3 linked regions of the Homo sapiens genome follow. The protein of the gene in region 2 purifies or fractionates together with the protein of the main gene of each other region. This does not show direct contact. Each region holds a gene or a part of one and is shown on either strand. Other genes may lie near its edges.

What was found.
Region 1: the proteins of FBLN1 (region 2) and KLHL15 purify together in Homo sapiens (co-immunoprecipitation; one large-scale study listed by IntAct). This does not show direct contact.
Region 3: the proteins of FBLN1 (region 2) and SPIN1 fractionate together in Homo sapiens (co-fractionation; one large-scale study listed by BioGRID). This does not show direct contact.

The regions. Positions count from the first base shown.
Region 1 is NC_000023.11:24,017,123-24,020,774, forward strand, and holds part of KLHL15 (kelch-like protein 15), read right to left. Parts: intron 1-3,652. UniProt on the Homo sapiens protein: Substrate-specific adapter for CUL3 E3 ubiquitin-protein ligase complex.
Region 2 is NC_000022.11:45,505,745-45,509,396, reverse strand, and holds part of FBLN1 (fibulin-1 isoform D precursor), read right to left. Parts: intron 1-3,652. UniProt on the Homo sapiens protein: Incorporated into fibronectin-containing matrix fibers. May play a role in cell adhesion and migration along protein fibers within the extracellular matrix (ECM).
Region 3 is NC_000009.12:88,464,927-88,468,578, reverse strand, and holds part of SPIN1 (spindlin-1), read right to left. Parts: intron 208-3,652; coding exon 1-207. UniProt on the Homo sapiens protein: Chromatin reader that specifically recognizes and binds histone H3 both trimethylated at 'Lys-4' and 'Lys-9' (H3K4me3K9me3) and is involved in piRNA-mediated retrotransposon silencing during spermatogenesis.

The sequences.
Region 1 (3,652 bases), on a different chromosome or scaffold from region 2:
GATTGCTTGAGCCCAGGAGGCAGAGGTTGCAGTGAGCTGAGATGGCGCCATTGTACTCCAGCCTGGGCAACAAACTAAGAGCCTGTCTCAAAAAAAAAAAAAAAAAAATTAGATTCTATTTGCAAAAAATACAAAATAGTGTGGTCGGAAAGAGCAAAACCTCTGAAATCAGAGTGCTTACTGTGTGACCTACAGAAATTTTGTTAACTTCCTATCTTGGTTTCCATCCATACATTACTAATAATCATCATCATCTTATTATCAAGTTAGGGTGGTGAATAAATGAATTAACCTAAGTGAGAACCCTCAGTCTCCCCTCTCTACCAACCCCATGCCTCCCTAGGGTTTATCATAATGCAGATTTATAACAGATCAGAGTCAGGCGCAGTGGCTCACGTCTATAATCCCACCACTTTGGGAGGCCGAGATGGGCATATCGCTTGAGCTCGGGAGTTCGAGGCCAGCATGGGCAACGTGGCAAAACCCCATCTCTACTAAAAACATAAAAATTAGTCAGACGTGGTGGTGTGTGACTGTAGTCCCAGCTACTCAGGAGGCTGAGGTCAGAGGATAAACTGAGCCCGGGAGGCCGAGGCTGCAATGAGCTATAATCCACCACTGAACTTCAGCCTGGGCAACAGAGTGAGACCATGTCCCAAAAAAAAAAAAAAAAAAAAAAAAAAATTGTGTACATAATTCTTTAACTGGTTACAGCGGCCTCATGCCTGTAATCCCAACATTTTGGGAGGCAAGGCACGAGGATCACTTGATCCAGTTCAAGACCAGCCTGGGCAATGTGGCCAGACCTCTTCCCTACAAAAAAATTTTTTTAAATAGCAGAGCTTGGTGGCGTGCTCCTGTGGCCCCAGCTACTTGGGAGGCTGAGGCAGGAAAATCGCTTGCGGTGAGGATGTCGAGGCTGCAGTGAACCACGATGAAGCCACTGCATTCCAGTCTGGGCAACAGAACAAGGCCCTGTCTCTAAAAAGAAATCTAAGTACAGAATTATATCAATTTAAGGAAGAAAACTATTATAAGAACTACTTTGCAATGGCAGAGACAGCCGCGGCAGCAGTAGCGTGCTCAACAAGAAGTGCGTAGCCCCACTCTCCCAAAAGAAAAAAACGAATCATTGTAAAACACAAAAACCTTAAATAAGAACTCTTTAAATGAGTGCTGGAGGAAAAATTTAAGAGGCTTTGAGGAAAAACATTTACTGACAAAATGTTCAATGTACAAAAATTCTGTATCCTTACTTTTCATATATAGGTTTATCAACACTTTATACATGGCCTTCAGAATTTCAAATAGTAGGTTTTTTTTTTTTCAAGAGGGAAACCAATTAGACCAAATGACAAGGCATACTTATACTACCAGGAAAGAAATACTGAAGAACGTGTCTTGTTTCATAAACTTGGTACTGACTAAATAAAAGAAAGCCTCACATTTTTGTGCCTAAGAATGATTAGTATAGGGATTCTCAAAGCATGATCTGGGGACAAGTGAATCCAGTTGTCCTAAAAGATCCCAGTCCCCACTAAAGGGGCTTCCCAATGTCAAAATTATTATCCAAATAATTTTTTTAAAGTTATTGGTCAGCCGGGCACAGTGGCTCACATCCGTGATCCTAGCACCTTGGGAGGTAGAGGTGGGCTGATCACTTGAGCTCAGGAGTTCAAAACCAGCCTGGTCAATATGGTGAAACCCTATCTCTACTAAAAAATACAAAACTTAGCCAGGGGTGATGGCATGTGCGTCTGATTCCAGCTACTCAGGAGGGTGAGGCACGAGAATTGCTTGAACCCAGGAGGCAGAGGTTGCAGTGAGCCAAGATTGCGCCACCTCCAGCCAGGGCGACAGAGCAAGACTCCTTCTCAAAATAAATACATAAATAAAGAATAGTTATTTGTCTTTTTCACTTTCATTCTGTTTTCTAGAGGTTTACACATGGTATGTGATATTGCAACAGACTGAATGCAGAAGCTGATGAGAAGCCCATTGGCTTTTATTAAGCCAGATATTAAAGAGATATGCAAAAATTTAAAACAATGCCACTCTTTTCACCAAGTTCTTAACTGTTTTAGAAAAGTTATTTTTCATAAAAAAATGTTATTTAGGTTACCATGTAATAGAATTAATTTTTATTTGTTTATTTATTTTTTGAGACAGTCTCACTCTGCACCCAGGCTGGAGTACAGTGGCATGATCTCTGCAACCTCTGCTCCGGGGTTCAAGCGATTCTCCTGCCTCAGCCTCCTGAGTAGCTGGGATTACAGGAGCCCACCACCACGCCCAGCTCATTTTTTTATTTTTAGTAGAGACGGAGTTTCACCATGTTGCCCAGGCTGGTCTCGAACTCCTGGCCTCAAGCGATCCACCCGCCTCGGCCTCTCAAAGTGCTGGGATTACAGGTGTGAGCCACCAAGCCCGGCCCCCACTAATTTTTAAGAGTACAAATAAGTACAAAGAAGTCCTGAGACCACAGGCTTGAGAACAACTGAAAGTGTAAGAGATAAGTGACAACACACACACACACACACACACGTGCACGCACAAACCTCAACCTCTTCCTACCTCTGCCCTGGAAGACTATTACTGCTATTTATATCACAGAATTTTTGAACACTTCAAACTCTCTAGTGACCAGTAAAAAAAGAAGTTTGGTGGGGGTAAAACTGGACAGGAAATTAAAGGCAAAGAAATTAAATGCTTCCTTTTCAGTTATAAGGCTGCCATTCTGATGTGAAGGCAAAATTATAGGCAATTAAAAGACATTTCAAAATTAACCTCTATGTTTGTGCCATAAGCAATAATTTATTGCTTTCACATTCCTTCCACAGCTGCTTGAAAATTCATACAAAAGCTTAAGGTATTCAATGCAAAAGCTAGATTCTCAGAGGTTGATATAATATACTTACCCTCAATGAAAAATTTAAATGATTTCATACTATCTTCATCCCCAAACTGTTCTCCTACCAAAATTGATGCCTATGCAGAAAATGCCACAGTTGCATATCGAAAAGAGAATGCAAAGGCTTACTACGGATAAAAACAGAATTAATTTCTGAGTCATAACATTTCTCACTTCTGTAACCCATAAAGTAAAAAAATGTAAATTTGACAATCTCAAAGCAGCCAACTTCTCAACATACCAATATAAAAGAAAAGACAAATTTAAAGACAGACTTTTAAGCTCTATTAGCGGTCACTTTACTCTCAATACACTACTCAAATTGAAAACTCACTTTAATATGGGAGGAGACGTTGTGTAAGTTAACTTTAATTTGTTTAATACTGGAAATTCTTTCTTGTCATCAAAATATTTTTATAACTCAGGACCAAATTGCAAATGACCATTTAACTAAGCTATTAGGAGGGCCCTGGGTCCTCCAGCCTCCAGACTGGCACCAAATTACTTCACTTTTCAGGTATGTTTAGCATTTCGTCATCCTATAATACAAGAAGCCTTATAAGAAAAAAAAAACCCTGCTTGAATGCTATTTTTCATCAGAAGACTTTAATTTAATGCTTCTCTGCTTATTCCACACTATGACTAGAAGTAGTCCAAGAGTGATGTCATGGAAAACAGCTTCCCTAGCCTTTAGAGATTGGATCCAGTGAGAATTCTAGGAAAAGCCTCTATTGGGGAATA
Region 2 (3,652 bases):
GGGGTCTTGGATGGTGAACCAGCCGGGAGGAGGCAGCAAGAGAGAAGGAGCAGAAGGTACCTCTCTGGGAAGGCGAGAAGCATTCTCCCCACAGTTCCCTCCAGGCAGCTCTGGCCCCGGCAGCAACTTCCTACATCAGCCCAGTGCACAGAGGGGCATCCTCATCCTTCTGCAACATCCCACCCTGCTCCAAGGGCCTCCTGGGCTTCCAGGACGCATCTCCCCTGGTGTTCCTCTCACCCCTCTGGCCACCTGTCATGCATCCTCTGCACCTGGCATTTGGAACCTGGAGCTTCAAAGGCTGGAGGGTCCCAGGACGCTTGCTCTCCTCAGGCCAGCTTGTTCATGCCACACCAGCTCAAAGGTCCCTTCCTCCAGGAAGTCCTCCCTAACTACCGCCAATGCACACACATATGCACATATACACGCATGCACATGGGACAAATATGTTTTCTTTCTTGCATGGTCTCTTTGTACTCTGAGCTTCCCAGCACTTAGCACAAATAATTAACTCTGTACTTAGTGCCATGAGTCTGAGCCAGACACTGTCTCATTCTGCCTCCTGCCCCCATGCCTGCCCTAAGCAGTCATTCAATAAATGTCCGTGAATGAATGAACGCACAAATGATCTCACATGATCCTAGGTATTCTATAAAGTGGGGGCAAAGAGAGAATCACCAAGTTGCCCGAGGCCATGCAGCCTCTGCAGAGGCAGGCTTCAGATCCAGCTCTGACTGTAAAGCTCATACACACCCCACCATCACACTCCAAAGGAAACAGGCATCCCCCCCTGAACTAGACTTAAAGATTCAAGTCTTCTAAAGGTGCGTGAGGCTGGCTGGGCGCGGTGGCTCACGCCTGTAATTCCAGCACTTTGGGAGGCCAAGGTGAGCAGATCACGAGGTCAGGAGTTAGAGACCACTCTGGCCAACATAGTGAAACCCCGTCTCTACTAAGAATACAAAAAATTAGCCAGGCGTGGTGGCGGGCACCTGTAATCCCAGCTACTTGGGAGGCTGAGGCAGGAGGATTGCTTGAACCTGGGAGGCAGAGGTTGCAGTGAGCCAAGATCACACCCCAGACAGTGCAAGACTCCGTCTCAAAAAAAAAGATACGCGAGGCTGTCCAGTGTGCTGGTGAGGGGTATGACGTCAGGGCCAAGCTGCCCAAGCTCAAGTCCTGCTGCTGTCACTTAGCAGCTATGCACCCACAGTCTTGCTACCTGGACTCTCTGGGCCTCCATGTCCCCTCATTGATGAGGGGGACAATGACAGCACCTCCTTTGCAGGGCTAGGGTGAGGGTATAGCTAGGTAACACAGGTGAACTGGGGCAGGGGTGGGGCAGGAAGGTGCTCGAGTCCCCGTGCTGTGGGGAGACCATGCTGGGTGCACAGGTGTTGGATTTCCATCCTCAACCTATCACACGCATCAGTGACTCTCAGAAATGGCACTGTGCAGGTCCATAGAGGAGTTCTAGGCCAAAACAAGAAGCCGGGCTTCATACCTAGGTAGCAAAACTCACAGGACCTTTTCACTCCAGTGGGTAACAGGATCCAAAATGAAAAACAGGGCCAGGCGCAGTGGCTCACGCCTGTAATCCCAACACTTTGGGAGGCCGAGACAGGTGGATCACTTGAGGTCAGGAGTTCAAGACCAGTCTGGCCAACATGGTGAAACTACATCTCTACTAAAAATACAAAAATTAGCCAGGTGTGGTGGCGCATGCCTGTAGTCGCAGCTACTCAGGAGACTGAGGCAGGAGAATGGTTTGAATACAGGAGGTGGAGGTTACAGTGAGCCGAGATCACACTACTGCCCTCCAGCCTGGCCGGCAGAGTGAGACCCCGTCTCAAAAATAATAATAAAAAATAAAAATAGGTTCAAAACAACACTGGATCACCTATTTCGTAGGGCTGCTGAGATGACGACATTGGTTACTAAATGTAAAGCATTTCACCTATAATAATTACCCAGAGGACACTCACATCTTATAGTGAAGGAAACAGAGGCAGAGAGTTTGTGGGTGTCATCAAGATCTCTCCAGACACTTTCAGAATTGGGACCAACACACAGCTTCCTAACCCCCTTCTCATGTTGGCTCCGCACAGTGTAGTAACCCGCAAATAACCTGTAGGAAGCTATGGCGACTGGTGCCTCGCTCCCTCCCACCCCAGCCTCTAGTTAGGACCACTGTGGGGTTAAAGGAGGTGGGGCCCAGCCCAGCTCTAGGCCCAGCCCCAGCCCCGCTCCTCGCTGGGTGACTTGTGGCAGATGACTTAGCCAGTCCTGAGCTCCCCTCCAGCCTGAGGGGGTCTCCTATCCCAGGGAAGTTGACACAGTGGTTCCCCCCTCCCACCCTGTTTACTTATAGGGCCACATGTGAGATCATCACAAGGAAACTGGAACCATATGGGGCCTACGAAAGGATTCATTCATCAAATTGTTATGATTTGCTATTCTGCAAAAGGAAAATCTTGTTGTATAAAATATGCTGGCAAAATAACTACATGCCCTCTTAGAACTGTTCTAATAAACTTCACCTGGAAGGCGGCCCTGACCAGGTGCCCAGTGCTCAGAGCCCGGGCTTAAAGTCTCACCAGGTCAGGGAAGCTGCTGGAGAAGTCTCTAGACAGCACAGTCTCCCCCAGTGGTGAGGAGGGGGTGGAACTGGAAGGAACTGGAAGTGGGTAGAAGGAGGGGGTTTCCCTGGAAGTCTCGTGTTTTCTCTTCCTTCCAGGTATTTGGCCCTGCCATTTCCCCTGCCAGGAACACCCTTTCCCCCATCCTCCCAGCCCTACCCACAGACTTAGCCACTGCCTTTTCCTCCTTAGGTTCCCAGTTTGCATGCCGCTTCCTCCGGGAAGTCTTCCCTGACTCTGCCAGTAGGGCTCAGTTCATTTTTCTGGATCTCCTAGTTGCATGAGGGGGAAAAACTGGGTCTCTCTCCTTTCCTGCCACATCCACAAGTTATAGAGCAGTGTCTGGCACTGAGCTGTCCCTTAGTGAATGAATGACTGAATGGCTAAGAACACCACCTTTCCTGACACGGGTTTGGCACTGACGACTACCAGTCCTATAGCCCCATGGGGCCTTCTGCTCAGCGCCTGGCTGGGAAATTCAGTAGTAGTAGAATGTGCAGAGGCATCTTGGGGAAAACAATTCTGGGGTATTGGCAGAATTGCGCTCTTCCCGCGCTCCCCTCACATCAAGCCTCATCTCCTCCAAGGAGCCGCCAGGGAGCCCCCAAGGGCTGCGAAGGCTCCTGGTGCCAACACTTCCTAGAGAAGGGGACAACAGGAATAATAGCTAACATTAATAACAGGGCTGCCAGCCGGCACGGTGGCTCACACCTGTAATTCCAGCACTTTGGGAGGCCGAGGTAGGTGGATCACCTGAGGTCAGGAGTTCGAGACTAGCCTGGCCAAGATGGTGAAACCCCATCTCTACTAAAAGTACAAAAATTAGCTGGGCGTGATGGGCGCCTGCAATCCCAGCTGCTGGGGAGGCTGAAGCAGGAGAATCGCTTCAACTCGGGAGGCGGAGGTTGCAGTGAGTCGAGATCATGCCATTGCACTCCAGCCTGGGCGACAAGAGCGAAACTCCGTCTCAAAAATAAAATAAAATAATAATAATAATAATATAGCTGCCATGG
Region 3 (3,652 bases), on a different chromosome or scaffold from region 2:
CTTCTTTGTAATCATCTAAGAGTTGGTACATGTACAAGACAGGGTCTTTCTCATAGGTAATGTAAAACCATGTGTTCATGACAGGTGCACGTGCTAAGACCATTCCCCTCCACTCATCTTTAGAACCATCCTCTGTCTCAAACATATGTTCCACTGCTTTGCCAATCATTGTGTCTGCCAAGTGTGCATCGCTGATTCGAGATGTCGCTGGGGATTAAAAAAAAAAAAAAAAAGTTGACAAAGTGTTTCGCTGATTACCGACTATGAAGACTGAATTTACTAAAGAAGGCTACACCTGAAATTTTGTCCATGCAACGTATTAGCAAGCATCAGAATCTGGGAAAGCTTTAAAAAGTACAAAAACCAAAGACAAACTACTGGGCCCCAGCTCAGAGATGGATTCAACAGAATAGAAGTATTTTGTCCCAAGTCAGTTAATTGAAAAAAATATGATTTTTTATTTTTCTGGACTCATCTGCTCTTGGTTCTGTACCCAAATCAAAAGTTTTAATTGTTCATTCAAGGTATAAAATACTGTTTGTTATTGTTTACTTAACAGTTAAATTTTGAGATAATTTCAGACTTACAGAAGAACTGGAAAAATAGTAGAGTTCCTGTATACGGTTCACTTTGCTTCTCCTGTATTAGCATCTTACATAACCACAGAACGTTTATTTAAAACTTAGAAAAGCTATTCAAGGCACAGAGGGTTTTTTTTTTGTTTTTTTTTTTTAAAGAAATTGGTGTTTGTTTTCCTTCAGTCTTATTTCCATTTTTTTATTAAGGCATAGGTTTTTACTCTCTTGCTCCTACAATCTTATTCTTCACTGCAACCAAAGTAATCGTTGTGTCACTGATACCACATTGTGTGATCTAAAATGTTCCCATGCCTTCCCTTTATAATTTGAAAAACAACCAAACTGCTCACCATAGCCCCCAAGCCCTAAAAGCCTTCACGCCTCTGCCCTCAGGTTTCCCATCTTCCTCCTTGTTGTTCATGCGTTCTCTACTCTGCTCTTCTTCCTCTCCCATTAGGACACACTCTCCTCTGCCTGATAAGCTCTTCCCCATACCTTCAGAAGGCCGGTTCCTTTTGGAGTTCTCCTGACCAACAAGGTAGCCCCACAAATCCCAGTCACATTACCCAATTTTACCTCTTAATAACATTCACCATGATCTAAAGTTATCCCACTTTATGTTATTTGTGTACTTGTTAGTTGCTTGTACATCCCCATGAAAGCAGAGACCTTCCCTTTCTTGTTTTATACCTAGATCATAGCAGGTCAGTATTTGTATGATTTAATCAGATACCCCATGTGGTTGGGAGCTCAGGTCTCTGAAATGATAGATTAACGGTCCTAGCCCTTAATATTTTTCAAAAGTGGTGAAAATTATCACCTTCATCTTTTTAATACTGGAAAAACTATGAAGGATCCCATTGGTTTTAAGACTTCTCCAGTCCACAATTTTAGATAACTGTCTTTATACCAAATTTAAACAATTATCTTTAAAAAACAAACAAACAAACAAACAAACAATTAGAGACAAGCACGGTGGCTCACGCCTGTAATCCTAGCACTTTGGGAGTCCAAGGCGGGCGAATCACTTGAGCCCAGAAGTTTGAGGCCAGCCTGGGCAACATGACAAAACCCCGTCTCTACTAAAAATACAAAAAATTAGCCAGGTGTGGCAGTGCAGGCCTGTAGTCCCAGCTACTGAGAAGGCTCAGGTGGTGAATCACCTAAACCCAGAGGTCGAGGCTGCAGTGAGACAAGATGGCGCCACTGCACTCCAGCCTGGGCTACGGGAGTGAGGCCCTGTCTTAACAACAACAAAAACAACAACAACAAACAATTAGCTCTCCTATTTTCCTCATTCAACAAACTTCTATTTCTGTTACATCAAAAGAAACAAAAAAGTGAGATTTTCTTGATACATGTATTGCTATTTAATTTTATCAGCAAACCCTAAACATGTATGGCTGGTTTTAAGTACGCAGTAATAATAAAAAATTACACAGAATTCCCCCCGTGTATGACAGTAAAAAAACCCCACTAGTTTCTTAAAGCCAGTAGATCTCAGACTTAGATCTCAGAACTCCATGTGCATTCTTAAAAATTACTGGCTGGGCACAGCGACTCACATCTATAATCCTAGCACTTTGAGCCCCAGGCAGGAGGATTGCTTGAGGCCAGGAGTTTGAGACCAGCCTGGGCAACATAATGAGATCTCATCTCTACAAAAAGTTAAAAATTAGCAGGGTACTGTGGTGAGTGCCTGTAGTCCCAGCAACTCAGGAGACTGAGGCAGGAGGACTGTTTGAGCTCAACGTGTTGAGACAGCAGTGAGCCCTGATCACACCACTATACTCCAGCCTGGGTGACAAAGCGAGATCCTGTCTCTAAAAAAAAAATTAAAACATAAATGGAAATTACTACAGACCTAAAAAAGCATCTGTTTACATAGATAATGCCTACCAATATTTACTACTTCAGAAAATGAAAAACAAATCTAGAAACATTTATTTAAAAATACCTATATATCAATGCATTTTAAATTAAAAATAACTATTTCCTATCAAAATACATTAAGAGTGGCTTAATTTTACATTTTTGCAAATCTCCTAATGTCTAGGTTTTAAAAAGAACAAGTAGATTCTCATATCTGCTTTAGCACTCAATCTGTTATGATCTGCTCTTTCAGTTCAGGTATAAAATCCAGCCTCTCAAAGATATGATACTGAAAAGAATATTCTAATCGTCTTTCAGATAATTCTAGATATACTTATATGAAACCACAGAATTCAACAGTTAGCTCCTTAAAGGTTAGTTACAATGCAGAATCTGAAACCATTAATAAATCTGTCATACTGTTACATTAAAACTCATGTCTCCAGAACATATAAAGAACTCTCACAACTCAACAAAAATCAAAATAACCTAATTAAAAAATGGTCAAAGGATGTGAGTAGATATTTCCCCAAAGATGATTTACAAGTGGCCAACAAGCACATAAAAAGATGCTCAATATCACTAATCATCAGAGAAATGCAAATCAAAACAAAATGAGGTATCGTATCACACCCATCAGGATGACCACTATGACAAAAACAGTAAATAGCAACTGCTGACTAAGGGATGGAGAACTGGAACCCTTGTATACTGTAGGTAGGACTGGAAAATGGTACAACTGCTGTGGAAAACAGTATGGTAGTTCTACCTAAGAAATTAGAATTACGATACTAAAATTAAAATTATAATTACCATATGATCCAGCAATCCCACTCCTGTGCCTATATCCAAAACAACTGAAAGCAGGATCTCAAAGAAATATCTGCATATCCATGTTTACAGGAGCACTATTCACAATTTTACATGGTACAATTTTACATTCTACCAAGAGGTAGAAGCAATCCAAATGTCCATTAATGGGTGAACAGATAAACAAACTGTGGTATATAGATACAATGGAATGTTCTTTTCAGCCTTAAAGGAAATCCTGTCACACGTTACAACATGAACCAACTTTGAGGACATTATGCTAAGTGAAATAAGTTACTCACAAAACAAATACTGTGTGATTCCACTTCTATGAGATATCTAGAATAGTCAAATTCATAGAGACAGAGTGTAGAATGGTGGTTGCCAGGGGC